Homo sapiens: one gene and its partners. The protein of the gene in region 4 purifies or fractionates together with the protein of the main gene of each other region. This does not show direct contact. Each region holds a gene or a part of one and is shown on either strand. Other genes may lie near its edges. The genes, in order: SPSB3, TUBA4A, FKBP5 and CDK13.

Region 1 (7,970 bases), on a different chromosome or scaffold from region 4:
GCCCTGGCCCGCTGCAGGAGTGCAAAGATGGGGCCGGGGCCATTACAGCGTCCCTTTCTGCAGTGTCTGGCCCCTGCCCACAGAGCCCCCGCTGACTCCCCGAGGCCCCAAATCAGAACACGGAGCCAGGACCCTCCAGGCGTCTGTACCCACACATGGGAGCACCCACATTCTCCGTGGTGGATGCCCCACTGGTGCACCCACAGCCTGCGCCTCACTCCCACCAGCCTCTCCCTGCCTTTGGGGGCGTCTAATGCCACCTGCTCCAGAGGCACCAGAACCCCCTCAGCTCTGCCCCTATGACCTGCCACACTGGGGCCTCAGGTCCCTGCATGCCATGGCCAGGGTCTCAGCAGACCCCACTCCCTCTGACCGGGAGTTGGGGACAGCTGTGTGGCAGCACGGACCCAACTGGAGACACACCGCCAGCCTGAGCCCTGTGCCTGGTCGTGGGTGTCATGTGCAGGTCCCCAGGAACAGGCCTGGCTGCTGAAGAGGAACATTTCCACAGGAGAGGCCGGCACGGACGCTAACCCCCTTCACCAGGACGGCGGACGCGCCGCCCGGCCGTTACCGTTTTTCTTGGGGCCTCTCCACACCACGGCCTCGTCCGGCTTCTCCAGCAGGAAGCCCACAGACATGAGCGAGATGCTCTGCTCCCGGTCCAGGAAGACGGGTGCCCAGCCGCGGTCGCACTGGTGCACAGCCCTGCCCTGCGCCCCGAGCATGCGGGGGATACTGGGGCCACACAGGTCCACATCCAGGATTCCCACCTGCAAGGAGCGGCACAGCCTAGGCCGGGGGCACCGCCAGGCCTCCACCGGGATGCGGGCAGCTGCCCGGGGCTCCGCCCAGTGAGGGGTAGGGCGCTCACCTTCTTGCCTGCATGGCGCAGTGCCAGGGCCAGCTCCGTGGAGATGGTGCTTTTCCCAACGCCCCCCTTTCCTGAGAGGACCAGGATGATGTGCCTGACGCCGGCCAGGTTTCCAGGCTCTGGGCGGAAACACGACAGAGAAGGTCAGGGCTCCTGGTGCCCACTGTGCCCACACACGCGGGGTCACCCACTGCCTCTTGCACCCACGTTCTGAGCGGGGCAGTGGTGAATCGCCAGACCCAGAGGCAGCCCGTGCCCCACTTCGCCCCGATGTAAAGACCTCCAGGCAGGTCCCCTGCAGCCCCAGACCCGGGGGGACCCTCTAAGACCACGGCACTCCCTGCACCTGCCTGAGGCGGCGCTGCTGAGAGTGGAAACTGCCCAACTCCTCTCGCTGTGTGGAAGGGTGCATGCGTTCCTTCGTGCGCGTGTGCAAACACACACGTGGGTCACATGATCATGAAACTGCCAGCCCCCTGCTATTTCTAACGGGAACCAGACTCCACTCTTTCCCCAGCCAGTGCACCTGGGCTCGGCAGAGGCAGCAGAGGGCCCAGGGTGGGTGGCAACAACCACGCGTTGTCACACACCAGCGTCCCCGGCTCTCGGTCCCTGCAATGTGCGGTAAGTGAGGGGAGCCGGCTGCTTCCAGCACAGCTCCAGCTCCTCTTCCTTCCAGGGTCCCATCCTGTCCCTGCCACACGGCAGGGGCTGCTGTGTGCAGATACCTTGGCAAAACCCCTGCATTCTCACCCCGGCGCCACCGCTGAGGCCATGCCCCTTGTCTCCAGCAAGCTGCTCCATCCCCGACAGGTCCTTGGAGGGTGCATGTGAGGGGCTCAACACATGATGCGTAAAACCTGCCCCCTTCTGATCCGCCTCTCAAGGGCACGTTCAAAGGCTCCCAAGTCCAAAGCCTCCCGGAGAACCTGGCATGCAGGCGGGTCCTCAGACCTACAGAGGCTGCCTGAGGTCTCCTCCAGGGGACGCGGAAAAGGCAGCCCCAGCCCCACACTCCTGCAAACACAAAGCCCCGAGACCACGGCCTCCCGGTCACCCCTGGGGCAATAAAAGGGGTTCTGACTTAAATTACTTCAACACCAAGAGGTACCAGAAGTGGCCCGTGCAGAGAGGGAGCATGCACTTCTGTAGCTGCCGGGGACTCTGTCAGGCCTGGGTCCTGACTGCCATGCTGCCATCAGTGCTGGCACCAGCGGCAGTGTTAACCCCCAGGGGCTCTCCTCGTTGGCAGAGGTGGGGGAATGGTGCCTGTCTGGTGTGTTGGGCTGAGCACCATGGTAAATGCAGGCCTTAGTGTCAGGAACCGGGACAACAACCCTGAGGGTTCCCCCAAGAACATTTCACTTCTCAGCAAACTGAGGCAGCTCCTAAGCAGATTGTCAGCAAAGCACAGTCAGCATGAGCCTGCCGGGTGGGGCAGTGGGGCTGGAAGTGCAGGAAGGAGGCGAAGCACCATCTCCCCGAGGAAGGCGAGTGCGCTCTCCATGGACAATGAGTCCCGGTCAGCTTTATGGGTTAGCAAATCCAGATCATTCCACGTGGTGGACAAATATATTTTTACAGTAAATGTATATTTTTATTTTGAGAGGGGGTCTCATTCTGTCGCCCAGGCTGGAGTACAGTGGCGCAATCTCGGCTCACTGCAACCTCCGCCTCCTGGGTCCAAGCAATTCTCGTGCCTCAGCCTCCCACGCCTCAGCTTCCAGAGTACCTGGGACCACAGGCGTGCGCCACCATGCCCAGCTAATTTTTTATTTTTTTCGTAGAGACTGTTTCTCTATGTTGGCCATGCTGGTCTCAAATCTGACCTCAAGTGATCTGCCCGCCTCGGCCTCCCAAAGTGCTGGGATTACAGGCATGAGCCAACTTGCCCAGCCTAGGCCTTTTGAATTTTTATGTGCATATTTTCCCCGTTTAAAGAAAGCTTGGGGCCGGGCGCGGTGTCTCACGCCTGTAATCCCAGCACTTTGGGAGGCCGAGGTGGGTGGATCACCTGAGGTCAGGAGTTCGAGACCAGCCTGGCCAACATGGCGAAACCCTGTCTCTACTAAAAATACAAAAAAAATTAGCCAGGCGTGGTGGCGTGTGCCTGTTATCCCAGCTATTTGGGAGGCTGAGGCAGGAGAACTGCTTGAACTTGGGAGGTGGAGATTGCAGTGAGCCGTCATCGAGATTGTGCCACTGCACTCCAGCCTGGGCAACGGAGCGAGTCTCCGTCTCCCCCCAACAAAAAAACGAAAGCTTGGACTAGGTGCAGTGACTCACGCCAGTAATCCCAGCACTCTGAGAGGCCAAAGTGGAAGGATCATTTCGGTCCAGGAGGAGTTCCGCACCACTCTCAATAACGTATTCAGACCCCATGTCTACACATTAAAAATGTAGCCAAGCGGGGTGGTGCATCCTGTGGTCCCAGGTGCTCAGGAGGCTGAGGTGGGAGGGTCGCTTGAGCCCAGGAGGTCAAGGCTGCAGTGAGTTATGATCGTGCCACTGCACTTCAGCCTTGGCGACAGTTAAGACCCTGTCTCAAAAAAAAAAAAAAGCTTCTATCAATCTCAGTAATATCCTTACTTTGTAGTAAATCCGTCCTGATAATAAGGACAGGCTTTTCCAGGCTTCTCCTCTGGAATAAGACTCCAGCACTGGGCCAGGCGCCGTGGCTCACGCCTGTAATCCCAGCACTTTGGGAGGCTGAGACGGGCGGATCACGAGGTCAGGAGATCGAGACCATCCTGGCTAACACGGTGAAACCCCGTCTCTACTAAAAATACAAAAAATTAGCCGGGCGTGGTGGCGGGCGCCTGTAGTCACAGCTACTCGGGAGGCTGCGGCAGGAGAATGGCGTGAACCCGGGAGGCGGAGCTGGCAGTGAGCCGAGACCGCGCCACTGCACTCCAGCCTGGGCGACAGAACGAGACTCCGTCTCAAAAACAAAAGACTCCAGCACTCGGTTTCTAATCTGTCAGAGTTGTGCTGCAAGACCTTGCTGTCCGAGGAATGTTTTCCTTTTGGTATCGGACTCGAGGTCTCTTAGAAGATAAATGCGGCTCCCACTACTCAGGAGGGCCCACGGCGCTGATCTGGCGAACGGATCGTCCCCACTGGTGTGAATTCTGTCCCGCGCAACTTACACTTTTCTGAACACTGAGAGCGCCACTTCCACAAAGAACTTAAAAGCATGTGAGATTCTGGCGTCCGTCTTACTTTCATGACTGCGCGCGTGTGATTTATTTAGAGACAGGGTCTCGCTCTTGCCCGGGCTGCGGTGCAGTTGCAACCGCGACCTCCAGGATAGCGGGGCCCACAGGCGCCACCGCGCCCGCCTACAACGCGGTGCTCAACAAAGTTAACTTTAAAAGCTCCCCCAACTCCACGACTCAGGCCCTCCGAGATCACGGAGCTTCCACATCGAAGCAGGAGCACGCGGGAAACGACCCTGTTTAGAAAATGCCCGCGCCGCGGCCTCTGGCCCGGCCCAGCCACGCCGGCCGGTGATGGTCGCACCGGAGGCGCGCGACGCAGCGAGGCCGCCCCGGGAAGGGACGCGGCGGGGCCCCAAGCGAGGCCCTGGAGCGGCTCCGCACCCTGGCCCGCCACTCACCGGCCGCCGCCTCCATCCCGCCGCCTCCAGGAGCTCGCGGCTGCAGTCCGCTTACGCCCGCGGGCCGTCAGCCTCCCAGCTAGAGCGAAGGGCCTTCCAACCAATGGGCAGTGCGTGCCCGCCCGTGGCTCTTCTTGACAGGCCTAATCCTGCTGTCCCAGCCAATCAGCTTGCCGGAGGAGCTCTCGATCCGGTCCCGCAGGTTCCGGCGCAGACGATGACACGGACCTACTTTCCGGTCAACGCGGCCTGCGGTACCACCTCCCACCCGGGTCCAATGTGCGCGCGAGCTTTGTCTCCAACCGCTTGGGAACTGACCAATAGGAACGTTGGATTAGGACTGACAGTTCCTGAAACCTCTCGGCAATAGCTTTGTCACCCGACTCCCGCCCCCTCTCCCGAAGCTCCGAGACAGGTGTGCCCGCCCCTCGCCGCCGGAGCCAATGGGCGCAGGGGGCGGGGATTGTTTACGTCTCGCTCCGGGGCGGAAAGTGGGTCAGGGCCGGGCCGGCGGAGCGCGCAGCGGGGGCTGCAGGTGAGTGGCGGGGCACGGGCCGACGTCTCGGGCTCTGGGCGGGCGCGCTGACCTTGCGGGCGCGGCGGTAGCAGCGCGGCCAGGGCGCCGCCTTTGTTCCTCTCCGGAGGGCCGCGCCCGAGAGAGGCTTCCCCGGTGCCGCCGACTCCGGAACCCGCGCGCCCGCGGGAGGGAACAGCCAGGCCGGGCTGCCGCCGGGGAGGGCGGCTCCCGCTGCACACGCGCTCGCCTGGGGCTGGGCAGGGTTCGGCGGTCCGGGCGCCGCGATCCGCCCCGGCCTCCCTGGAACCCCACCCGGGGCCCAGCGGGCGTTGCCAGCCGCGAGCCCGGCGCAGGGGTCGGCCCTGGAAGGCTAGGCGGGAACCCCGGAGCTGGCGAGGGAGGTGCCAGGCAGGTGGCCTGGGAAGCGCAGACCTGGCCCTCGCAGCCTTTTGCATTTTATACCATAACAGCGGCCAGCGCTGAGCAGGTTTTAAGATTTGTGTTTCACGAGGAGCCCTGGCGGTAGCGAGCGGAGGGGAAGGCGAGCTGCGCGGCCCAGGAGACGGTGGCGGGAGGAGGATGCAGGCGGGTGCGGCGGTCGGGCCGGGCGTGAGGGGAAGGTGTCGGGGAGCGGTCACGGTGCTTCTGGCATGAGGAACTGGGAGGCCGGAGATGCCATTTGTCAAACCGGACGACAGAGGAGGAGCGAGTGGAGGTTTTAGATGCCTGCGGGACAGGCGGGCGGGGCAGCCAGGTTCGTGAGGTGGAACCGGAGAGAGGGGCTGGGATTCGCATTCCGGAGTCATGGGTGTCTGGGTGGCGTTTCACAGGATCTACCTGGGTTTTATTGAGCTGCTCAGATCCTGGAGTGAGGTACGGGCTCCTGAAGCGTTCTGGAGCCCTGGCTGGGCACCGGTGCGGCCCCTGCAGTCCCCACTTTGAGTGGGTCCGTGGCCCAGCCTGGAAGCTCAGGGCTGGGAGTGCTGTGAGTCTTCCTTTGCCCAGAGCCTGTGTTTTCTTCTAGATTCTTTCCACCATGGCCAGACGCCCCCGGAACAGCAGGGCCTGGCACTTCGTCCTGAGTGCAGCCCGCCGAGACGCAGATGCCCGGGCCGTGGCTCTAGCAGGCTCCACTAACTGGGGCTACGACTCTGATGGGCAGGTAGGTTCCAGCGGGCGAGGCGGACGTGGCTGGCCTAAGGTGTGGAGATGCCCTAGGCAGGCAGGCAGACATTACCTGAACACGGAATCAGTCGGAGAAAAAGATGCTTCTGAGGCTAGAGGACCAGTCCAAACCTGGGCCTGTCTCCTGGATGCACCGCATTCAGTAAGACTCTTTAATTTGGCAAAGGACACACACAGCCTCAGGGGTGACAGGACCTCAGAACACACTGCATTCTTCACTGTGCTTTCTCCTCTGAAACACATGGTGCATGGAGAGGTTGGCAGTTGCTTTTGGTTCATTCAACAGAAATTCTCCACTACGGGGCTGGGCACTGTGGCTCACACCTATAATCCTAGCACTTTGGGAGGCTGAAGCTGGAGGACCACTTGAGCCCAGGAGTTTGAGACCTGCCTGGGCAACATGGTGAAACACTGTCTCTACAAAAATTTAAAAAATGTGTCAGGCGTGGTGGCACGTGCCTGTAGTCCCAACGACTCAGGAGGCTGAGCTGGGAGGATTGCTTGAGCCAGGGAGGTCAAGGCTGCAGTGAGCCGTGATCACACCAGTGCGTTCCAGCCTGGGTGACAGAGCTAGACCCTGACTCAAAAAAAACAAAAACAAAAAAATTCTTTGGTTTACCCAGCCCATTTCTGGAGGTGACCATTGTTAACTTGCTGGTTGTCTTACCAGACGCTTCTTCTGCCAGTACAAACGCATACTCTTTGTTCACATATATGTGTGTTAAAAAACAAACAAACAGAAAAACCCTGATCCTTGAAGGTAAAAATTTCTGCACTTGCTCAGGGAGGCCAGGAACCTGAAGGTATTCAGAACAGCTCAGGTGTTTGTCTGTCTGCAGCCCAGGTGATCTGACATGCTTGTGGGCTTTGCAGGCAGAGCTACCTGCCCCCATGGCCCCTGACCCCCACCTTGGCAGACCCTGAGGGCAGCTGCCTGGCCTGACGGGCGCAGTGAGGCTGGGAGGGGTGGGGGTCCCTGTGGGGGGTGATTTCCCAGTCGGTTTCCTGAGATCTCCCTCGGACCAGAGCAGGAGTGTGGCTGCGCCTCCCTGCCCCACTTCCAGCTACCACAGGTCATGTGCCCTGGAGCAGTCTCTCCTGGCCTCGCAGGGTCATGGCTGTGGGACGCGGGCGTGTCCACAGGCCAGGCCAGTGTCTGACACACGCATGCTGCTTGTCCTCTGTCACCATGGGCCGTGTCCTTCCGGGGCGGCTGCTTGTGTGACCTGGTGCTGCTCTCTGCTGTCACAGCTCCCCTGCGCTGCTGTTCCGGCTCAGCCAGGTGTCCTGGGAGGGGTGGGCTCCTCTCCTCTGAGTGAGGACTCCCTAAGCCCGGTGGGTCCATTAGGCCTTGGGGGCAAATTGGGAAACAGGGTCCTTACCCACCGGGTGGGGGCCGTCCTGAGGTCTCCTGGAGCTCCCTGCTCCAGCCAGGGAGAGGCCCCCACCTGCCTTCCCGCCCGCCTCCAGCTCCTGCAGGTCACATGCCTGAGCCTCACAGGCTCGTGGCTGTGGGATGCAGGCGTGCCTGCGGGCTCGGCAGTGTTCGACACATGTGCTGCTTGTCCTGTGTCACCAAATGGGCCTGCAGTCTGTTGTGGGCAGGAGGTAGGCAGTGGCTTCAGTCTTTCTCCTTCTCCAGGGAACCCGGCCCTGGGCCTGCAGTGCAGGTGCTCAGTTCTGTGCCCGGGCTCCTGACTCAGGGGGTCTACCCTGGCTCTGGGGACCCGCACTTCTAGGCAGTGGGGTAGAGTTGTCTGGGCCTGCCTTGTCTG
Region 2 (7,156 bases), on a different chromosome or scaffold from region 4:
GTGAGCTGAGATCACACTACTGCACTCCAGCCTGGGTGACACAGAGAGACTGTCTCAAAAAAAAAAAAAAAAAAAAAAACACCCAAAATGGGCCAGGTGACTCATGCCTGTAATCTCAGCAGTTTGGGAGGCCAAGGCAGGAGAAGAGCTTATGGCTAGGAGCTCTAGACCAGCTTGGGCAACACAGCAAGACCCCATATCTATAAAATATATATATATAGTGTGTGTATATATATATTTTTTTTTTGAGACAGTTTCGCTCTTGTTGCCCAGGCTGGAGTGCAATGGCACAATCTTGGCTCACCACAACTTCTGCCTCCCTGGTTCAAGCGATTCTCCTGCCTCAGCACTGCAATCCAGCCTGGGCAAGAGAGCAAGATCCTGTCTTCCTGTCTCTTTTTTTTTTTTTTTTTTTTTTTTTGAGACAGTGTCTCTCACTATTGCCCAGGCTGGAGTGCAATGGTGCAATCTTGGCTCACTGCAACATCTGCCTCCCAGGTTCACACGATTCTCCTGCCTCAGCCTCCTGAGTAGCTGGGATTACAGGTGCACACCACCATACCTGGCTAATTTTTTGTATTTTTGGTAGAGACGGGGTTTCACTATGTTGGTCAGGCTGGTCTTGAACTTCTGACCTCGTGATCCACCTGCCTCGGCCTCCCAAAGTGCTGGAATTACATGCCCGGCCAAGATCCTGCCTCAAAAAAAAAAAAAAAAAAAAAGGCTGGGCGCAGTGGCTCACACCTGTAGTCCCAGCATTTTGGGAGGCTGAGGTGGGTGGATCACGAGGTCAGGAGATCGAGACCATCCTGGCTAACACTGTGAAACCCCATCTCTACTAAAAATACAAAATTAGCCAGGAGTGGTGGGACATGCCTGTAGTCCCAGCTACTCGGGAGGCTGAGGCAGGAGAATTGCTTGAACCCGGGAGGTGGAGCTTGCAGTGAGCCGAGATCGCGCCACTGTACTCCAGCCTGGGCAACAGTGAGACTCCATCTTAAAAAAAAAAAAAAAAAAAAGCCAAAATGGGTCTTACAGAACTGAAATGAAGGTGTTGGCCAGGTTGCCTTCCTTCTGGAAATTCTAGGGGAGAATCTATTCCTCGACTTTTCCATCTTCTAGAGGCTGCCCATATTCTTTTACTCATGGCCCCTATCCCTCTTCAAAGCCAACAATCACATCATTCTGACCTCTACTTACTTTTGACCTCTTCTTTATTTTATAATTTTTATTTTTTGGTAGAGACAGGGTCTCACTATGTTGCCCAAGCTGGTCTCAAACTGCCGACCTCAAGTGATCCTCCCACCTCAGCCTCCTAAAGTGTTGGGATTACTGGCATGAGCACTGCACCAGGTCTGACCTCTTCTTTGACTCTGACCCTCCTGCCTCCTTCTTTCACTTATAAGGACCCTTGAAATTACACTGGGCCTACCTGGGATAATCCAGGATCATCTCCCTATCTCAAGATCTTTACCTTAATAACATCTTCAAAGTATTTTGCCATGTAAGGTAACAGTCACAGGTCCTGGAGATGAGGATGTGGACATCTTTATGGGGTAGCATTCTTCTGCCTACCATCTCTGAAGTGAAACAATTCTTCTGACACACACTTAGCAAATGCTTACCAGGTGTGCTAAGCACTATGCTAGGAGCTAGAAACAAAGATGAATAAGACACAGTCCTTACCTCCAATAGTTTGCTATCTATAATATTAAGATGGACATGTACACAAATAACTATAGCATGATGTGCTATATGCACTAAAATAAATGTCACAGCTACTTACACAGTGCCTTGATGTGAATATGTACATCTCTAAATTCATCTGATATTCACAATCTGAAGTTGTTATCCCGGTTTTACAAATGAAGAATCTGCACCTGAAGGTCAAAGAGGTTTAGAGTTTTTCCTAAGATAGCTCAAGTCTCTTACTATGTTCATTCTGCTAGGATAGGAGAGCACAAGGAAAAAGAGGTTCAGGGAGGGTCTGCAACCTACTGCCATGTGTCCTATAGTCACCACGGCTCCTTTCTTTGTAGGGACCATGACCTTATTCCCCAAAGAAGCCTCATTATACGCCCCTGTCAGTTTTCTTTTTATGAATGAGTCTTGTTCTCCCAATCAGATGGCAAGTCTACTGGGAAGAAAGACCTTGTCATATTTCACTATATTCCTTTCCATGCCTTGCCTATTTTGTTGATAGAGAGTTGCCATCACTAGTTCTTTCATGGTATTATGTTGTGTTGTCAGGTGATGGGGGAGGGAGGGGTGAATCCTTTCCAAGTGATGTAGAGCCAGGAAGACAGGTTTCTTAAGATCTGCAAACCAGCAGCACCTGGGGCACTGCCAGATGACTTTCCCCAGTGAAGGGAGACAATTAGAAAATGCAAGGCAGGCTGGGGTGGTTGCTCAGGCCTGTAATCCCAGCACTTTGGGAGGTTGAGGCGGGTGGATCGCTTGAGCTCAGGAGTTCAAGACAAATCTGGACAATATGGCGAGACCTTGTCTCTACTAAAAATACAAAAAATAAGGCCGGGTGTGGGGGCTCACACCTGTAATCCCAGCACTTTGGGAGGCTGAAGCAGGTGGATCATCTAAGGTCAGGAGTTGGAGACCAGCCTGACCAACATGGTGAAACCCCGTCTCTACTAAAAATACAAAAATCATCCAGGCATCCATGCCTGTAATCCCAGCTACTCCAGAGGCTGAGGCAGGAGAATCGCTAGAACCCGCGAGGCAGGTGTTGAGGTGAGCCGAAATCGTGCCATTGCACTCCAGCCTGGGCAACAAGAGCGAAACTCCATCTCAAAAATAGATAAATAAATAAAATAAGCTGGGCATGGTGTTGGTGCACGCCTGTGGTCTCAGCTACTGAGGAGGCTGAGGTGGAAGGATGAGGTAGAAGGATGGCCTTGAGCCGGGAGATGGAGGTTGCAATGAGCTGAGATTGCACCACTGCACTCTAGCCTGGGTGACACAGCAAGACACTGACTCAAAAGAGAGAGAGAGAGAGAGAAAGAGAAAGCAGAAGTAGCTTGAAAAGATGGGGTGGAGAGAACGGAATGAAATGTAGAAAGAAGGGCTTCTGCGGAGACCAGGGGCTGAGTGCTGAGACCATTAAGGTGCGGGTTGCAGATCCTGCTCTTGGGTTAGAGACAGAAGAGACCAAGAGTCAGAATCATCCAAGATATGAGAATCTCGATTTTCTTCTTTTCTCTTCAGAGGCAACAGACATTTTGATAGCTTACAACAATGTTTCCACTATGACATCACTGTCTCCTTTTCACCCACGAAAATGTCAAGGACTCAGTGAGGTTAAGTCACTTGCTCAAGGTCACACAGGGTAGCCTGGAGGAGAATCCAGGTCCTGAGGTCCCCCGGTCAGCGCTCCCGCAGTTCTGGCAGCAGGGGAGTGGGCAGGTGCCCTCAGCGAGGGCATCATAGTGACTGCGCTGATGACAGCGCCACTGACCCGCGGGCGGCCGGCGAGCCGCGGCAGATTCCGGGGTCGGCCCCGGCAGACAGGCTGCGGGGCTCGACTCTGCGGGAGCGCCTAAGGCATTGGCAATCTGGGGCTCAGGCTGTGCAGTTCTGGGTCCTCGGCCGCCCACAGGCGTCGGCGAAAGGCTGCCGCCCCGGCCGGGGACCAGGAAGCGTCAGGCAGCTGGCAAGGGCTCCCCGGGGACGCGCCACAGCCTCACAGCCGGCCCGAGTCTCCTGGGAGGCAGGGCTGGAAGGGCAGGGGTGAAGGCCAGCTGTGGCCGCTTGGGAAGGACCGCCTCGCCTGCTCCCGACCTAAGTCAGAACACCTGGATGACCGGTGCCTCCAGGACGCAGGTGCAGGTGAGACTCGCCCTGCCACAGCACCCTGCATCTCCGCGGAGGCCCTCGGGAGCCCAGCGTGTCTGCTCAAAACGAGGAAAGAATGGTTAAAGCCCGAATCGCGACTCTTAATCCCAGCGGGACAGGTGAGGGACCCCCGCGCAGCTTGGGGAGGGTACCAGGCCAGGCTCCGCCCCTCGGGGGGGCCGCTTACCCTCCCGGGAGGCGTGGCCTGCGGGCCGCCCAGCCTCTAGTGGGCGAGCGGGGAACGCGGGCCCCGCCCCCCCCCCGCCTATAAGGGCGGTGCGGCACTGCAGCTAGCGCAGTTCTCACTGAGACCTGTCACCCCGACTCAACGTGAGACGCACCGCCCGGACTCACCATGGTGAGTGCGGCCCGGCCGGGGTCGCGCCTGTCCCCTAATTGCCCCTCTCCTTTGGGGGACACTTCTTCCAGGCATGCTCGGGGACCTCCACCGGGCGTTCCGGGTCTCCAGGAGGTGCGAGGGTTTTGCATCCTCCCTCCCCAACCCCCTCCTGGTGACTTTGGCCGAGCCGTATAGTTCACCTTCGGTGGCTGGGGTTGGGGCTTGGGGTGGAGTGCGACTCTTCAGTAACAGAGAGGAACCCTTCCTGGCACTCTGCTCCTGCCTTACGAGCATTTGTGTCCCGACTCTGTATGAGAGTCACGCGGGCCCGCGCCCCGTCCTTTCCGCGGGCAAAAGAAGACGGGTTTGGCTGCCCTCTTACATCCCCAGTCCCTGGTCCTCAGCACTGACCGAGCACGTGCTTGGCGCTAGAAGGTGGAAGGGGTCAGGTTACCTGGTGCCGCATCCCCCTTTCCTCTGTGTATGCATTCCAACTATCCACAGAACCACCCCCCCCCCGTGACTCAGCACCCCGCGTCTGAGCTGAGAGGGTTGGTGGGAACGGGGTTCGGCCTCCTGAAGCGAGCTGGCCCTCTCCAGCCGAAGCCCGGGTGCGCGGATGGGCAGAGACAGCTGGCGCTGAGCACTGCGCGGGCCGAGGCCAGGTTGGGGGGAGGGGAGAGAGGTGCATGTAGGGGGTGGTATTTATAGCCCAGGAGCGGGGGCCGAAACCCAATCCCCGCTTTGGGCTGGGAAATAACTGTAAAGACTCCAGAGGGAGAGCGGATGTAGGGCTGGGCTGCAGGATGGCGCCCATCCTGCCCGGGACAAGGCGGGTCACCTCTGGGGCCTCACCGCAGGTTCCACTTCCTTTCTGGGTATTTGGAAACCGTCACCCCGCCATTTCGGTGTGGGAAGAGCGCGCGGGCCCTGCCGGACTTTAGTGCTTTAGGGGTTAATTTCGGGCTGACAGGGACGGAGCCTAAGGCAGTGAGCGCCCCAGTACCCTCAAACCTTATTGCTGGCCCCTGCTGTCTGAGCTTACAAGCATTACCGCCGCTATTTCCGTGCGGGCTGACACGGGAGATGAAAGTGGTGAAGACACCCAGGGTGCGGGGGTGGAGGTGGGGAGAGGAGCCAGATGGGATTGATCCCCAGAGCCAGATGGGATTTAAAGGTGAGGGAGGAGGGCATCCTGATGGCGTGTGGTCAGTTGATGCCAGATTGGATGGCTGAGACACCTCTGCAGCTTACAGGAAAGAAAGAGGGAAAGGGTTCTATGAATTCTAGCTGTTCATACTCAAAGCAAATAATTAATCAAGTGGGGGGGGGGCCTCTAGCTGTAAACCCATACCTCTAGGAAACCTTTTGTCATGTGGAGCCACAGTGCTCACTTGACAGATTCCCCACTGAGAAGTGGGCTAAGAGGTTGGCCTGCATTGCTGGGTGCCTCCAGGTGGGGAGTCCTGTACCTGGGAGCCCGGGCAGGCTGCTACTCTCTTCTCACCTCTGCCCAGCCCCAACCCTCCACTCTTGCCAACTGAGTCATCCTAGCTGGTAGATGATAGGGTGGAAGAGAGACTCGCAAGGTGAGGACTTGTGGATGTGGGGCTCATGCTGTGTCCCCTCTCTCTATCCCTCAGCGTGAATGCATCTCAGTCCACGTGGGGCAGGCAGGTGTCCAGATGGGCAATGCCTGCTGGGAGCTCTATTGCTTGGAACATGGGATTCAGCCTGATGGGCAGATGCCCAGTGACAAGACCATTGGTGGAGGGGACGACTCCTTCACCACCTTCTTCTGTGAAACTGGTGCTGGAAAACACGTACCCCGGGCAGTTTTTGTGGATCTGGAGCCTACGGTCATTGGTGAGAGGAAGTGGGGACAAAATTGAAGGGGGTGGAGCATGACTCAAAGCTTCTCCCTGGAGAGAGAGGGTATTTAGACCAGGCATTCCTAGCCCTGAAAATTCCTAGCCGTACTTGAAGCTGCAGAAGGCAAGCTGATCTGAGACTGGCCTGGGCAGCTGGTCTGGGTTTCTCTCACACTCTGGTATCTCAGGCTGGCAGGAGGATGAGTCCTTCCATGCATCTGGCCACAGCTACCACCCTGGGGGAGGAAGGTCCCTGCTGAGCATAGCTTTGTGGTTTTTGCCCTTCCAGATGAGATCCGAAATGGCCCATACCGACAGCTCTTCCACCCAGAGCAGCTCATCACTGGGAAAGAGGATGCTGCCAACAACTATGCCCGTGGTCACTATACCATTGGCAAGGAGATCATTGACCCAGTGCTGGATCGGATCCGCAAGCTGGTGAGAGTGTGTCTTGGGAGGGAGGGAACTTTTGAGACTGTGCTAATGGTCAGGAATATTTTTTTTCAGATCCTTTCAGGAGGTCATCTCTAACTATACATGGTCTCGAGTGTGGTGCTGCTATGGCATCCTCAGTATTTGCCCTGACTGCTGATGTATCTTACGCTTTATGGAGCCAGGTGATAGAGTCCCTCAGGCCCCTCCCCTACCTAAACTGTTCTTTCTCGTTCTTGCCTTTCAGTCTGACCAGTGCACAGGACTTCAGGGCTTCCTGGTGTTCCACAGCTTTGGTGGGGGCACTGGCTCTGGCTTCACCTCACTCCTGATGGAGCGGCTCTCTGTTGACTATGGCAAGAAATCCAAGCTGGAATTCTCCATCTACCCAGCCCCCCAGGTGTCTACAGCCGTGGTCGAGCCCTACAACTCTATCCTGACCACCCACACCACCCTGGAGCACTCAGACTGTGCCTTCATGGTGGACAACGAAGCAATCTATGACATCTGCCGCCGCAACCTAGACATCGAGCGCCCAACCTACACCAACCTCAATCGCCTCATTAGCCAAATTGTCTCCTCCATCACAGCTTCTCTGCGCTTTGACGGGGCCCTCAATGTGGACCTGACAGAGTTCCAGACCAACCTGGTGCCCTACCCTCGC
Region 3 (7,350 bases), on a different chromosome or scaffold from region 4:
GTGTGAACCTGGAAGGCGGAGCTTGCAGTGAGCTGAGATCGCGCCACTGCACTCCAGCCTGGGCAACAGAGCCAGGCTCCATCTCAAAAAAAAAAAAAAAAAGAGAGAGAGAAAAGAAAAAGAATAGAATAACCAAATGGAGCTCAATGGTTGGGTTTAAGATGAGATTTTTTTTTTTTTTTTTTTTTTAGCTGAAAAGAGACTGAGTGAGCTGAAAATAGAAGAAACTTATTAGGACAAAGCATAGAAGGATAAAAGACAGAAAATACAGAATAAAGGGATGAAGTAAGAAGGTTGAATGTGTTTCAACTGGAGCCCCAGAAAGAAAGAAGAAAAAGGACAGAAATCGTATTTGAACATATAATGTCTGAGAATTGTTCAAAACTGAGGAAAAACTATTCAAAGGTGATAGGCAGCCGTGAAATGACAGATATCCACTCTACCGTGTATTCTCTTCTTTTTTTTTTTTTTTTTTGAGACAGAGTCTCACTCTGTCACCCAGGCTGGAGTGCAGTGGTGCAATCTTGGCTCACTGCAACTTCCACCGTCTGGGTTCAGGCAATTCTCATGCCTCAGCCTCCCAAGTAGCAGGGACTACAGGCGCACGCCCAGCTAATTTTTGTATTTTTAGTAGAGACAGGGTTTCACCATGTTGGCCAGGCTGGTCTCGAACTCCTGACCTCAGGTGATCCGCCCACCTCAGCCTCCCAAAGTGCTGGGATTATAGGCATGAACCACCACGCCTGGCATACTCTGACTCTCAAAAACCTTAATGTACAAAGCTGCCTTTAAAAGGATTCTGAAACCAAGATGAAGGTAGCTCGGTAGTAGTTGGAACAGGGCTTGCCTGGGCTGAGTTCAAGTACAAGCTCTGCTACTTCCTAGCTGTGCCACCTGGAGAAAGTTGCCAAACTTCAATTTTTTCAAGTAATAAATGAAAATAAAGAGTAACACTGGCCTACCCCATTGTGAGAATCAAATGATAAGTTCGGGCAAGGTGGCTCACACCTGCAATCTTGACAGTTTAGGAGGCCAAGGTGGGAGGGTCTCTTGAGCCCAGCGGTTCCAGGCCAGCCTGGGTAATAGAGTGAGCCCTTGTCTCTAAAAGAAAAAGGAAGACAGAAAAAGAGAATCAAATGATAAAATGCATGTGAATGAGTCTAGTGAATGCGAAGTGCTTTTAAAATGAGATGTGGTTTGAGCAGTTCCACAAGCATGCCCAGGGTCACTACCAGTGACAGGCAGGACTGGCCATATAATTTGCAGGGCCCAGTGAAAAATGAGAGTGCAGGGCCCTTTGTTGAGAAAGTACTAAGAATTTCAAGACGGCGGCAGCAGAGCATTAGACCCAGCACAGGGCTCTTCTAAGTACACGGCCCTGTGTACTACACAGGTCACATACCCATGGAACTGGTCTTAGGTACAGACCCTGCAAAGAACCGTACTGTGCCTTAGGAAAGGGCTGCTCATCCCACATCCAGGTATCTGCAGCCATAGCGCATGTCATCTTTGAATTCTGAAGGGCAGTAATGTTTAGGGAAAATGCAAGCACATGTGTTTCCAAATGCCAAGGAAGGCAAGTGCAGTGATCAGAGTGGTTTTCTGGGAGAGTGGGTGGGGCTAGCAAGGCTGCCATCGGAACTGTGGAACTGACTGTTCTCCACAGACTCTGGCCTAGAAAAAAAAAGAACCGTGTAGCTGTATCTACAGGGCCTGTTGTTGTTGCTGCGGTGTATTACAACACAGCCTGGCAGCCTCCCCTGCCTTTCTGTCTTCCTCCTGGAAGAGCCTGGTCCCAGACATGTGACACGTCCACACAGCCCTCTGCAGATTTGCCCACACTGCTCCTCACTGTTCCCTCAATTATTAGGCTTTTCCAGGTCTGCATGCTTTTTGCTCACGCTGTCCCCTCCTGCCTGGGAGTCCCTTTCCCCCTTGTCCACACCCCTCTGTCTGGCAAACACCTACTTCATCTTCTAAGATTCAGCTCTACTGTCAGGTGACCTCTTCAATGACGCCTTCCCTGCCTCTCGTAGGAAGAGCTGATTCCTCTTTCCTTGGCGCCTTCCATTGTGCCCTATGCAGACATCTGTCACAACCCCTGTAACATGAAGAGGAGAACTGACATGTTACGTGTATGTCACTGTCTCCTAATGAAGCCCTTGAGGGTTGGGACATATATACCCTGATAGCATAGAGCTTAATATGTGCTGTTATTTTTATTTTATTTTATTTTATTTATTTATTATTATTTTTTTTGAGATGGAGTTTTGCTCTTGTTGCCCAGGCTGGAGTGCAATGGTGCCATCTCGGCTCACTGCAACCTCCGCCTCCCGGGTTCAAGCGATTCTTCTGCCTCAGCCTCCCGAGTAGCTGGGATTACAGGCATGCGTCACCATGCCTGGCTAATTTCGTATTTTTAGTAAAGATGGGGTTTCTCCATGTTGGTCAGGCTGGTCTCGAACTCCCGACCTCAGGTGATCCGCCCACCTCTGTCTTCCAAAGTGCTAGGATTACAGGTGTGAACCACTGTGCCCTGCCTAATATGTGCTATTATTAAGCATAGTAGATGCTTAATCAATTGGTATTAGTATGCAGAGGAATTTTGATCAACTTTGTTTTTCTGCGTTAATGAACAAATACATTGTTTCAGTGACTCCCCTCGGCAACTGGTAAACAGGGAAGCTTCTAGGCACTGAGGACAGACAAATGACTGAGACAGAACCCCTGCCCTCGAGGCGGTTTCAGTCTTGGCTTTATTTGTCTTTTCTGCAGACATCATCACCCTTTTTTTTTTTTTAGAATGGAGTCTCGCTCTTGTTGCCCAGGCTGGAGTGCAATGGTGCGATCTCGGCTCACTGCAACCTCTGTTCAAGCAATTCTCCTGCCTCAGCCTCCTGAATAGCTGGGATTACAGGCATGCGCCACCATGCCCGGCTAATTTTTTAAAATTATTTTTAGTAGAGACGGGGTTTCTCCATGTTGGTCAGGCTCGTCTCGAACTCCCGACCTCAGGTGATCCGCCCATCTCGGCCTCCCAAAGTGCTGGGATTACAGGCGTAAGCCACCGCGCCCGGCGCCCAGGCATCATCTCTTGAAGGCAGCATGGCGATTTCTGGACGAGGCTCTTCATAAATGTTTGAATGCAGTATAGTGCAAAGAGAGCAGGTTTGGAGCCAGGAGACATGAGTTCTAATCTGGCTATGGGATATTAGGTTTCCATAGGTAACTATTAGGTCCCACGTGTAACTAGCTATGGGACATCAGGTTTCTGTTTCCTTAAAAATGAGAGAGTTGATTAGAGATTCCCTAAGGCCCAGGTGCAGCTCCTGCATCTCTATGGGAGTAACTCAGAGGTAGCCATCTGGTTGGCAGTCTACCTTTCGGAGTTGGCGGAAGAACTCAGCCGTTTTGTTTTTGTTTTTGTTTTGAGATGGAGTCTTGCTCTGTCACCAGGCTGGAGTGCAGTGGCGTGATCTCGACTCACTACAACCTCTGCCTCCCAGGTTCAAGCGATTCTCCTACCTCAGCCTCCCGAGTAGCTGGGACGGCGCGCGCCACCAAGCCCAGCTAATTTTTGTATTTTTAGTAGAGACGGGGTTTCACCATGTTGGCTAGGATGGTCTCGATCTCTTGACCTCGTGGTCCGCCCACCTCGGCCTTCCAAAGTGCTGGGATTACAGGCGTGAGCCACCCCACCTGGCCGAACTCAGCCGTAAGGCCTCTTCCTGTTTTAATCTCCTGGGATCTCCTGCTTGAAAGGTAGCAAGCCAAGAGAAAGTATGGTCTTTACAGTCACTGGGTGTCCAGAGGGAGGTGATATCTGCTAAATTGGTTCTCGAGGTGGGATTTCCCCAGTCCCGACTGGGCATCTTAGACTTAATGGGGTTGCTTCCTAGGGCTAACCTGGCCAGCTGACCTAACAAACAGCCTGGCCTGCCCCTCTCCGGCCTCTAGGTAGGCCCTGTGGACAGATAGGAGGGGCAGTGCCTTCAGAGAGACGATACAGATGGGAAGTCAACTAGCTTGCTTAGGCATTAATTTCTCGGGAGGTAAGAGATGTGAGGGGGTGTCAGTTTCCACCATCCCTTCTCTATGGCCCCCACAAAGGGCAAGGGCCAGACACGTGGGCTGGCGTGGGGAGGTGGAGGAGCAAATGATGGGGGCGGGGCCTCATTTGCATGGACGGCGCGCGGCCACCAATCCGGACAGGCGGATCGACAGCCCGCGCGCCTTTTGGGGGCGGACTGACAGCCCCGGGGCCCTATGGAAGGCGGGTCCTGCGGCCGGCTGGGGCGGGACGGCGCCGGGCGCTGCCCCGGGGATTCGGGCCGGCTCGCGGGCGCTGCCAGTCTCGGGCGGCGGTGTCCGGCGCGCGGGCGGCCTGCTGGGCGGGCTGAAGGGTTAGCGGAGCACGGGCAAGGCGGAGAGTGACGGAGTCGGCGAGCCCCCGCGGCGACAGGTACCGGCGCCATGGCCACGGAGATGGGGCGGCCGGCCGCGGCGCCCCGGGAGCCGAACGCCCTCCTTCCAGGTCCCGCCGCGGTCGCACTCGCTGCCTCAGCTCCCACCCCCACGCGGCTTCGCAGCCCAGGAGCCGCGTGTCGCGGGGGAGCGGGGTCCGGAAGCCTCGAGGGGAGCGCGCGGGAGGCCTCGGCCCCACTGCGGCGCCCCTCGCCGCGCCCCAGGGGCCGCGGGGCCGGTGCTCCCCGCGGGAGGCGCGGAGACTAGTGACCGCGGGCGCCGCTCTCCGCCCCCGCCGGCCTCTCCCGGCAGAGGCGAGGCGGGTCGCGCCCGCCCGTCCTCACTGGGCTTTTGTTTCCCGCCCGGGATGACAGGTCCCGCTCCGCCTCCGGTCTCTGGCCCCCGGCTCTCCCCGGACAGGCGGCCGGACCCTCAGCCGGCACCGCTGCGGGCGGGAGCCAAACTTCGCTTTCGGGTCCGGGCGCCGGGACAACCGGACCCCAGGGCGAGCCGAGCGCCGGGACGCCGCGGGCGCGGGGCGGATTCGCCCACCTGGCGGGGCTGTGAAGGGGATGGTGGCGGGGTGGCCGCGCTCCGGGTGTGGACGGGCGGTCCCCGCCTTCACCTGCCGCCTCGGGACAAGCGTTGGGGAACCGCATCGCCGCTGTCGGCCGCTTGTGGAGGAGTCCGCGCAGCGCCGTCTAACAGGTGATCCGCGTCACTCCCAGGCCATACCGAAGCGGCTGAACGCTGTGCCAGGGCTCCTTATGCTCTTCTGTTCTGGGACGTGAAAACGTCTTCCGCCTTATTGGTCGTCCAAAAAGGTGCACCGGTCACAGTATAAGAGTCAAAAACCAGTATTACCAAAAAGACACTACGAGCGTCAGGGTGCAGAGTGGCTTTCTTCGATTAACGAACCGGCAGGACCATCGTAGTCTCTAAAATCGGGTTCTGCAGTGGTGGCGAAAGCGTAGTAAGTTTCAAGTTGTAAGCGGAGATGCAGAATTGTAGATACCCTTCAGTGTGGTTCAGGACAGTGTGTTCAGCGTTTGGCCGCCGTTCAGTAAATTCTGCATGAAGCAGTTTGAGCTCGTGGTTTTGGATTTACTTTTCAGGAGTATGTTTTCCAGTGGAATAAGGCTTACTACTGAATGGGAGCTTTCTTTGCCTCTCTGAGTGTAGACAGGAGTGTTTATTTTCATTGTCTTCCCATTTTGTTAGATTGTGGACAAGGGAAAAGTTAAAGCATATTTTGGTTAAGTATTTTTAATAGTCTGGGATTCTATCCACCTCCTCCATAAGGGTTTTTACTTTAGAGAATTATAAAGTAATTCTCTAAAGGGAGCTGCTTCTCTTGGTGTTTGAATCAAAAGCCAAGAATCGACTTGAAAAAAATTCTTATTCTGGTGGGAAATTTTTATTGTCATACTTTCACTTCACCATTTTCTGTTTGTCTCTCCCCCAGCTGACCTCTGCCTGACAGTCTGCAATTATGGCCCTGACCAATTTAGAGATTCTATACAAATGACATTTTTAAAACGAGGGTTATTAATACTCATTATTTGTGAGAAACACTTTATTTAGTTACCCAGTTTTTTTCTTCTAATGTGTCTTGGTTGATATCTGTATTAGGTAAGATTTATACTTCGGAGATTAAGTTTAAGTTAAGAACAAAGTTGCTAATCTTGATTTAATTATGCTAGTTTATTATTCATTGAATGGTCATTTTACTTATTTGCCTAGGTAATTACAGTTAGCTAATAGCTGATAAGAGTTCGCCATTGAACCATCAACTCTTCAACCAATAATTGTGACTATTTTAGATTAAAAAGAATATAGTGGTCTTTATTGTTTTATTTCTCCATAACAAGCTATGAGGTCTTTGTATGTTTCTGAGTCTTTAATTCTTTTAGTTATGGGAATTTTGGGTGAATTTCTTTTTTAAAACATATTTTTAATCAGTTCAAATGAAAAACTTAAAATATTGCATTAGGCAACTTATTAAATCTTTAGTTATCTGTTTATTCTTGGAAAATAATGCATATTTTGGGTTCAGTTTAGTTTCCTAAAGGCTTCTCTGCTTAGGATGAATTAGTCTGGAGAGGAAAGAACATCCTGTTTGTATACCTGTAGAAGAAGTTACTGCTGTTAAAAGCTAAGTTGGCTTTTTGATGTTTAGTGTGGATAGGTTGAACAATAATTCATCCTCACGTTCGGAGGGCTTATTCTATGTAAATAGTTGAAAGGAACTGGATAAGACTGTAGCTTCCATTATTTTTTATCATTTATATAATTGCTCTTTAGTGTACTTAAATATATAAAATACTATTAATAATTAGTTGTTTATTGTCCTTATTCTGTGATGATGTATGTATATAAACCACATACAATAAAGTTGCATTTCATAAATTTATTTACATATGTGTATTTTAGTATTTTAACTATAAAAGTTAAAGTTTTATTAACTTTAGGTTTAATTAAAAGCCCATTTTAAAATTTAGTTTTTAGATATTTTAATTACTGATTTTTCTCTACTTTAACTTGTAATAGATGATATCATAAAATTATCAACTACAATTTCAGTTTCAAAAATTAAGCATAAGTTGAATTCTCAAATCCACACAATAAACATTGGGAGTGTTTTTAAAGCCATTTACCCTCAGGTATAACTCCTTTTGAGTTTGGAGGTGATAGTAAGTATTTTTAAATAAATGAAGCTACAGAAAACAAGGGCTTACATTAAAACAACTAATTTTGAGGCTAGATCAAATGCCACTATTATAGACATTAGTTTTGCTTTTTTTTTTTTTTTTTTTTTTGAGATGGCGTTTTGCTCTTGTTGCCCAGGCTGGAGTGCAAGGGCGCAGTCTCGGCTCATTGCAACCT
Region 4 (7,895 bases):
AGACTTTGTCTCAAAAATAAAAAAAAAAAAAGTTCTGGTAGAAAAGATTTCCTGTGACCTATATCGTCATCAGCATTATATTTTAAGATGCTAATGATTCTACTTATGAGAAATTTTAACAAAACACAGATGAATTGTTCATGTTTGTTTCTCTCAAATTTGTTCATGTAATTAGTAACTTGAAATACTCTTGTTATCTAGTTGAACTTCCAAATATTCATGAATATTTATCTCCTAAGAGGACCTACACATTCTTGTAAAATTAAAGAATAAAAAATATTTGGCCAGGTGCGGTGGCTGACGCCTGTAATCCCAGCACTTTGGGAGGCCGAGGCAGGTGGATCACTTGAGGTCAGGAATTCAAGACCAGCCTGACCAACAGGGTGAAACCCCGTCTCTAAAACAAAAATTAGCCAGGCGTGATGGCGCACATCTGTAATCCCAGCTACTTGGGTGGCTGAGGCAAAAGAATTGCTTGAACCTGGGAGGTGGAGGTTGCAGTGAGCTGAGATCACACCACTGTACTCCAGCTTGGGCAACAGAGACACCCCGTATGAAAAAAAAAAATGTAGTTTGGGGCCAGGACATGAATCTTAAGTTTTTGGAAAAACCAACTCCCCAAAAATCACGAAAATTATTTTAGGACAACATGAAAAATAAGTTTAATGCTAGTACCATCCCTGATCTATTGGTAATGGATGACTGCATCACCGTGTCTGAGGGATTCTGAGGCTACATTTAGGGTGAGCAGGAAGGAGTGCTGCCATTAATTAATGATACCTACCATGGAATGGAATGAGGACATGGGGTCACATGGTAATATTTAGCAACTTAATTTGGCTGTAATATAATTGAAAATAGCAGTGGCTTAAACAAATTATTCCTTTTTTAGTCTAGGGTTGGTTTGAAGGATCCATAATGCCCCCGAGGAGTCACGTCTTTCTATTTTCCTTTCACTTCACCATCCTTAGCCTGTGCTTATTCCTTTGTTGTCATGGGACAGCTGCTCAAACTCCAGTATTGCATTTGAGTTCCAGATGTAGAGAAAAGTAAGAAGTAAGAGTGAGGGGCAGAAGGTACAGGTCAGCGAAACTGACCTTCCTTTTTTTTTTTGAGATGGAGTTTCGCTCTCGTTGCCCAGGGTGGAGTGCAATGGTGCACTCTGGGCTCACCGCAGCCTCTGCAACCTCTGCCTCCCGGGTTCAAGCGATTCTCCTGCCTCAGCCTCCCGAGTAGCTGGGATTACAGGCATGCGCCACCACACTGGGCTAATTTTGCATTTTTAGTAGAGACGGGGTTTCTCCATGTTGGTCATGGCTGGTCTTGAACTCCCGACTTCAGGTGATCTGCCCGCCTCGACCTCCCAAAGTGCTGGAATTATAGGCGTGAGCCACCGGGCCCGGCCCTGACCTTCCATTTTTTAAGAATCATTTCCATAAGCTTCGCCCAACAACTTCCACTTCACTTCATTGGCAGGAGCCAATGATCACGTCTTATCTGCAAGGAATACTGGGAGATGTAGTTTTTAGCTAGGCACATTTACCCCCATCAAACCCAGGATACTGTTACTTAGGTAATCAAGGGAAAATCCATTTAGGAAGACAGCTAGAAGTTTACTCCACCATTACTGTTTTATAAATACGTATCCCTCAGCTTTACTGAACCAGCAAGAATTCCCACTCCCCAGCACATAGAAGCAATATTGCACTTCTGAAAAAAAAGTGCTAACACTGTGGGCCTCTGAACTGCATAAAAGATGAGTCTGGGGCCTGGTGCAGTGGCTCACGCCTGTCATCCCAGCACTTTGGGAGGCCGAGGCGGGCGGATCACCTGAGGTCAGGAGTTTGAGACCAGCCTGCTCAACATGACAAAACCCCGTTTCTACTAAAAATACAAAAAAATTAGCTCGGCATGGTGGCGGGCAACTGTAATCCCAGCTACACGGGAGGCTGAGGCAGGAGAATCGCTTGAACCTGGGGGGCGGAGGTTGCAGTAAGCCAAGATTGCACCCCTGCACTCCAGCCTAGGCGACAAGAGCAAAACTCTGTCTCAAAAAAAACAAAAACAAAAACAAAACAAAACACGAACTCCCCACCCCCCCACACACAAGCAGTAATAAACAAAAATATAGTCGTAAATGGGAATTTCAAATCTCTTTAATATTCAGGCAAGCAGACAGGCTTATAGAAACAGACGGCTTCTAATTCAAAGGTCCTTCCCATTTTTTGGAGTTTGAATCCTATTAGTTATTAGTGTTTCCAACCACGTGGGCAGGTATCTTGAGCTCAAAATGTTCATTCAACCTCCCCCACCAAAGGTAGAATCTTTGAGGAAACGTGGGTGGTAGAACCACAGTAAAAATATTTTAGTACATGTTTTTTGTTTGCACCCTGGATTGGGAACTATCCATTTACTTTTTTTCCCTTCTTCTCCATTTAATACACTTACACATGGGAATTATCCATTTACTATGGATCAAGTTTTCTTTGAAAATATATGATAGAAGATGACATTCTCAAGTGGAACTGGTTGTACACGAGGGGAGCTGCAAGCTAAACCTCTTATTTGCTCTCTTTGTTCTGTTATTCCAGTCTATCTAACGTAGGACGATGGAACAAGTTGATCCTACATGTTTCTGAAAAAGCCACTTGCTAAACAGTCTTTGGTAGGAGGCTGGCTACAGGACCTTCACTCAACAATACTGTCAACCAGAAATTTGTTTTAGGAACCCTGCCCCCTATTTTTCTATTCAGTTTCCCAATGCCCATCCCATGGTGTTGCCCACCCAGGCCTGCCCTCCTGGGAAATGCTCTGACTTTAAGATTACCTATTCCTTTGCCTCCTCCTTTATCCTTCAGCAAACCAACATCCTTTGTACTCGGTCAGTGAAGTCTGATCTTAGCTTAAATCAGGCCAGTCTGTGATACTGTGATGTCAAACTGATTAAAATAATTTACACTAAGGTATTAACGATGGATAGATACCAAGTGTTTAAGAACTAAACCAACTGATGATCTGAACAAATGAATTTTCAAAGGGGTTACTACATTTAGTCATTGAACAGACGGCTTAGCTTTTTCTTTTATTAGAGGCAGGGCCTCGCCCTGCTGATTGGCCAGGCTGGGGTGCTGTGGCACGGTCATGGCTCACTCCAGCCTCGAACTCTTGAGCTCCAGAGATCCTCCTGCCTCAGCCTCCGGAGTAGCTGGGACTACAGGCGTGTGCCACTGCACAGGGTTAGCTTGCGTTTCCAACCATTCTAAAAGCCAATAAGCCATTTACATTTTAATCTAATTATCCCGAGTGCTTAGTCTGTAACTGAAGGGCAATTCTAAGGCAAGAAATGAGATGTGAGGTCACTATATGGCTATGTTTGGCAACCCCAAAGGTTTAGATATGAAGGTGAAAGTGGGTGAAGTACTAAGAGGGCAGTCCTCATTCGCACAAGATGTTTTTATTTCAAGCCTCCTGAGAATTTGGAATTTTCAGTAGTTCCTTTTAACATTCCACTTATTTCCTGTATTGATTTAAAGCTTTAAAAATTTTTATTTTAAAGTAAATAGTGTTACCGAAGCTTGAGCTGTGATTCCCAAGTGTGTTTTTTAGGATAAGAAGGGGCCTCGCGGAAGTTGCGGTGAGCCGAGATCGCACCATTGCACTCCAGCCTGGGCAACGAGAGCGAAACTCAGTCTCAAAAAAAAAAAAAAAAAAAATGGGGCCTCGAACTTTGGCGTACGTGAGACAAGTTAAACCAACGCCATCTCCACCCTGTTTTGCGGGGTGTTTTCTCTCCTTTCGCAGCTGTTCCACTCCCAGGGCTTGACTGAAGGTACACGGGGGGTAACTGCCTACTCCAGAAGGCCACCAACAGCATTATTTCCCTCGCAGTCTCCAGAAACACTTGTTCTCACTGTGACCTTTCGCTCAACAGGCAGGCAGTGCGGCGTCTGCAGAGCCGGAACCGGCACTGCGCGCTGGACGCAAGCAACAAGCACGACAGGCGCGCCACCACGGGCAGAGTCTCAAGCAACAGCAGTGGGCGGCACACGAATCCTCTCCTTTCTTTAACCCTTCTTCACACGGAGTCCCACCCTCGCCGGAAGCCGAGCGGTTTCTACATCATGCCACTTCCGGTGCGGCCTGCCGGCCCCTGGCGGGAGCGAGCACGCCAGTGCGCGGTAACTTTGTTCCCGCCTCTCTTGCCCCGGCCACCTCTCATCTTCGGCTTTCTCTGAGCGTGAATTGCGGGCGCGCTCCCGGTCGTACGTCAGGGCTGAGGGGAAAAGCCGAAAGAGCGAGGCGAGAAGGAGGGGTTGTGGAGGTTAGGGCCCAACCAGCAAGTCCCGTTGCTCTCCCTCCTCCTGACGAGGAGCGGAGAGGGAAGGGGAGGAGCGAGCCGGGGCAGGCCGCGCACACCAGGAGCCTCCTCGTGGAGGGGGGGAGCGGAGGAAAGGGGTAGCTCCGCCACCTCTGCTGGCGGCGGCGGCGGCGGCGAAAGAAGAAGAAAGTCAGGGCCCGTACCTACCGCCACAGACTCAGAAACGCCCCTGCCCCCATCTCCCCGGAAATAGCCCCCCGCCCAGCCCCGCACAGTCGCTGCCCCAACCGAGAGCCGCAGCCCGGTCGCCCCCGCCTCGCCCCGCCCCGCTGCCCAGCCCCGCGGGCCGCAGAGTGCGCGAGGCCCTAGGCCGGGAGTTGTTGTCAGGCCCAGGCCACTTCCGAGGCGCCTGCGGTGTGTCGCCGCCACCACAGGAGGACGACGTCGACGCCGAGGAGGAGGCGGTGGAGGCGTGTTGTTGTCTCGCCCACTCCCCTCCCCTGAACTTGCACCCAACGTCAGGGCGCGATGGAGTGAAGCGGCGACGAAGGTGGTACTTCCGCGTTGCGCTGCCCGAGCCGAGAGCGCGGCCAAGGCCGCTCCCCCACCCCCGGGGGCACTTGGAGGACTCGGGACTCCCCCGCAGGTCAGCGCCCGGCGCATCTGGTGTTTTCGCTGCCGAGGATAGGACGACGAGCGCAATCGGGAGCTCCGCCGCCCGGATTCCTGCTTCCCTGGGGCCCGGAGGCTGCTGCGTACCCCACTGTGACCTGGAACCCAGGGACCCGAGTCCCGACCCGGATTATCGTGGCGCTTTTCCCGGCCGGCTCTGGTGCTCGGTGTCCCTCCGCCGCCGCTCCCGTTTCCGGCGGGGGAGATGGCCAGGATCTGACCCGGGAGGAGGCCGCACCCGCGCCGCGCTCTGCGGCTGGCTCTAGGCGATGCCGAGCAGCTCGGACACGGCGCTGGGGGGAGGCGGGGGCCTGAGCTGGGCGGAGAAGAAGTTGGAGGAACGCCGCAAGCGGAGGCGATTCCTGTCCCCTCAGCAGCCGCCGCTGCTGTTGCCGCTCCTGCAGCCGCAGCTCCTGCAACCGCCGCCGCCCCCGCCGCCTCTGCTCTTCCTGGCTGCTCCCGGCACGGCCGCCGCCGCAGCCGCCGCCGCCGCGGCCTCCTCCTCTTGCTTCAGCCCGGGCCCCCCTCTGGAGGTCAAGCGGCTGGCGAGAGGCAAGAGGCGCGCAGGAGGGCGGCAGAAGCGGCGTCGCGGGCCCCGCGCCGGGCAGGAGGCGGAGAAGCGTCGGGTCTTCTCGCTGCCCCAGCCGCAGCAGGACGGCGGTGGCGGTGCTAGTAGCGGCGGGGGTGTGACCCCGCTGGTGGAATACGAGGATGTGAGCTCCCAGTCCGAGCAGGGGCTGCTGCTGGGGGGGGCCAGCGCGGCAACGGCGGCGACGGCTGCCGGGGGAACGGGGGGCAGCGGCGGGAGTCCGGCCTCCTCCTCCGGCACCCAGCGGCGCGGGGAGGGGTCGGAGCGCAGGCCCCGCCGGGACCGCCGCAGCAGCAGTGGCCGCAGCAAGGAGCGCCACCGCGAGCACCGGCGGCGGGATGGGCAGCGCGGTGGCAGCGAGGCCTCCAAGTCCCGCAGCCGCCACAGCCACAGCGGCGAGGAACGGGCCGAGGTCGCCAAGAGCGGCAGCAGCAGCAGCAGCGGCGGCCGCCGGAAAAGCGCTTCGGCCACATCCAGCAGCAGTAGCAGCCGCAAGGACCGGGACTCGAAGGCCCACCGCAGCCGGACTAAGTCGTCCAAGGAGCCGCCTTCGGCCTACAAGGAACCGCCCAAGGCCTACCGGGAGGACAAGACCGAGCCTAAGGCCTACAGGCGGCGGCGGTCCCTCAGCCCACTGGGAGGCCGGGACGACAGCCCGGTGTCCCACAGGGCCTCTCAGAGCCTGAGGAGCCGCAAGTCCCCCAGCCCGGCAGGAGGTGGCAGCAGCCCCTATTCTCGGCGGCTGCCGCGCTCCCCGAGCCCCTACAGTCGCCGCCGCTCCCCCAGCTACAGCCGCCACAGCTCCTACGAGCGGGGCGGCGACGTGTCCCCTAGTCCCTACAGCAGCAGCAGCTGGCGCCGCTCTCGCAGTCCCTACAGCCCTGTGCTCAGGTGAGTTCTGCCGTTCTGCCTGTGTGTGCCTTGGCTGCGCTGGCCAGATCCCCAGGAGGAAGGGAAAGTGGTGCCCGGGTCCTCAGAACGACTCAGGTCCACCACCGAGACGAGACAACACCGCCTGAGCCTCCCAGGAAGGATAGGCGTTTTCGCGCGCGTGACACTTTTTTAGGGGGTCGAAGGGACAAAGCAACTGGGCGAAGGGAACTTTTCTCCTAGCTGTGGCAGGGAAGATTTCTAAGGAAGAATTAAAAGTTTCAGACTTGTTGCATTAATGTGTTAACAGGTTTCTCTCAGTTGCTCTTTGCTTTTCTGGTACAATTTGGGTAAACCTAGAGGTGGTTTAAGTCTTAATTTTGAAAGTTCTGTGAAGAGGTTTCATTGTTGGGAATTTAGGAATGGACTGCAACTTAAGATCTAGTATTGTACAGGGGAATAAGAATCAGGTACTGATGTCAGAGTTAGATGTGGATTGCAGATGTTTCTTATGATTATTACAGAAATGGGAGAAGCAGCCTTTCTGTAAAGTTTATTCTTTTAGTATGTTAAAAAAGCTTAGGTGGAAGCCGATAGTTCTGAATACTGAAGTTAAAAAAGGTATCTATTTAGTGATATTCTTGTGTGGGATAGTTTTTACCTGATCTTTCAAAGTCATAATTATAGAAGGTAGAAAAAATGACAAGACTGTGGTTTCTTTGTTGGTTTGTGATGACACCCAGTTGCTAATAACATTATAAATCTGGGTGGTGTAACCTAGTGTAACCAAGTGAATGGCTGAGTACATTCTTATACTATTATAAGCCTGTAACTGCTTACTTTAAAAGCTAAGTAGACTTTTTCTTAGATATATACCCGAAGGATAAAAACACAATATAACTAGACCTTTAAATATCAGGATCTTTGTCCAGAAATCTTTAAAAGGTGTAATTTAATTTAATGAAATTGGAGTAAAACTTTTCTGTAGCTTTCTTGCCTTTTTTGTTATATAATATTCTTTTTAAAAAGTGTGCCTTAAAATATACTTATCCACTAAGCAAAGTGCATTAAAAACAACTTTCGAGTATTTTATGGGTTCTTATATTCCTTGAGATGTTTGGACATTCCAGACCTTATAGTGTAGAGTATTGCAAAATGACATTTGTATCAGTTTTTCCTCCTGGGTTTCAGTAATGGCAAGTGGATGTACAGTACCTCTAAGTATGGGTTATGTGGAATCTCAACATAATACGAATATGCATCTGCAAAATTAGCAGACCTTTTTGAAGTATCACCATAATAAATGTAAAGGTGTGATGTTTATAGAGATCTGAGCGTGAGTTTGTCTTTAAGCCAAAAAAGTTCTATAAATTGCTTCACTCTTAAAGAGTGTTGAAGCATACTTAAAATGTTAGTTGATACCTTAGCGAAGAATTGAAAAACTCA

The links.
Region 1: the proteins of CDK13 (region 4) and SPSB3 purify together in Homo sapiens (affinity purification with mass spectrometry; 3 studies listed by BioGRID and IntAct, with this or other methods). This does not show direct contact.
Region 2: the proteins of CDK13 (region 4) and TUBA4A purify together in Homo sapiens (affinity purification with mass spectrometry; 3 studies listed by BioGRID and IntAct, with this or other methods). This does not show direct contact.
Region 3: the proteins of CDK13 (region 4) and FKBP5 purify together in Homo sapiens (affinity purification with mass spectrometry; 4 studies listed by BioGRID and IntAct, with this or other methods). This does not show direct contact.

What each region holds. Positions count from the first base shown.
Region 1 is NC_000016.10:1,779,560-1,787,529, reverse strand, and holds the start of SPSB3 (SPRY domain-containing SOCS box protein 3), read left to right. Parts: upstream 1-4,958; 5' UTR 4,959-5,028; exon of another isoform or gene 5,029-5,497; intron 5,498-5,707; exon of another isoform or gene 5,708-5,764; intron 5,765-5,798; exon of another isoform or gene 5,799-5,814; coding exon of another isoform or gene 5,815-5,883; exon of another isoform or gene 5,884-6,034; coding exon of another isoform or gene 6,035-6,046; coding exon 6,047-6,172; coding exon of another isoform or gene 6,173-6,337; exon of another isoform or gene 6,338-7,970. Other genes in the region: cytosolic Fe-S cluster assembly factor NUBP2, read right to left, coding at 575-773, 875-993, 4,494-4,509.
Region 2 is NC_000002.12:219,250,907-219,258,062, reverse strand, and holds the start of TUBA4A (tubulin alpha-4A chain), read left to right. Parts: upstream 1-4,144; 5' UTR 4,145-4,204; coding exon 4,205-4,207; intron 4,208-4,643; coding exon of another isoform or gene 4,644-4,655; exon of another isoform or gene 4,656-4,820; intron 4,821-5,832; coding exon 5,833-6,055; intron 6,056-6,349; coding exon 6,350-6,498; intron 6,499-6,739; coding exon 6,740-7,156. Other genes in the region: TUBA4B (tubulin-like protein alpha-4B), read right to left, coding at 4,644-4,655. UniProt on the Homo sapiens protein: Tubulin is the major constituent of microtubules, a cylinder consisting of laterally associated linear protofilaments composed of alpha- and beta-tubulin heterodimers.
Region 3 is NC_000006.12:35,685,916-35,693,265, reverse strand, and holds the start of FKBP5 (peptidyl-prolyl cis-trans isomerase FKBP5), read left to right. Parts: upstream 1-4,350; 5' UTR 4,351-4,462; exon of another isoform or gene 4,463-4,534; intron 4,535-7,350. UniProt on the Homo sapiens protein: Immunophilin protein with PPIase and co-chaperone activities. Component of unligated steroid receptors heterocomplexes through interaction with heat-shock protein 90 (HSP90).
Region 4 is NC_000007.14:39,945,383-39,953,277, forward strand, and holds the start of CDK13 (cyclin-dependent kinase 13), read left to right. Parts: upstream 1-4,873; 5' UTR 4,874-5,259; coding exon 5,260-6,470; intron 6,471-7,895. UniProt on the Homo sapiens protein: Cyclin-dependent kinase which displays CTD kinase activity and is required for RNA splicing.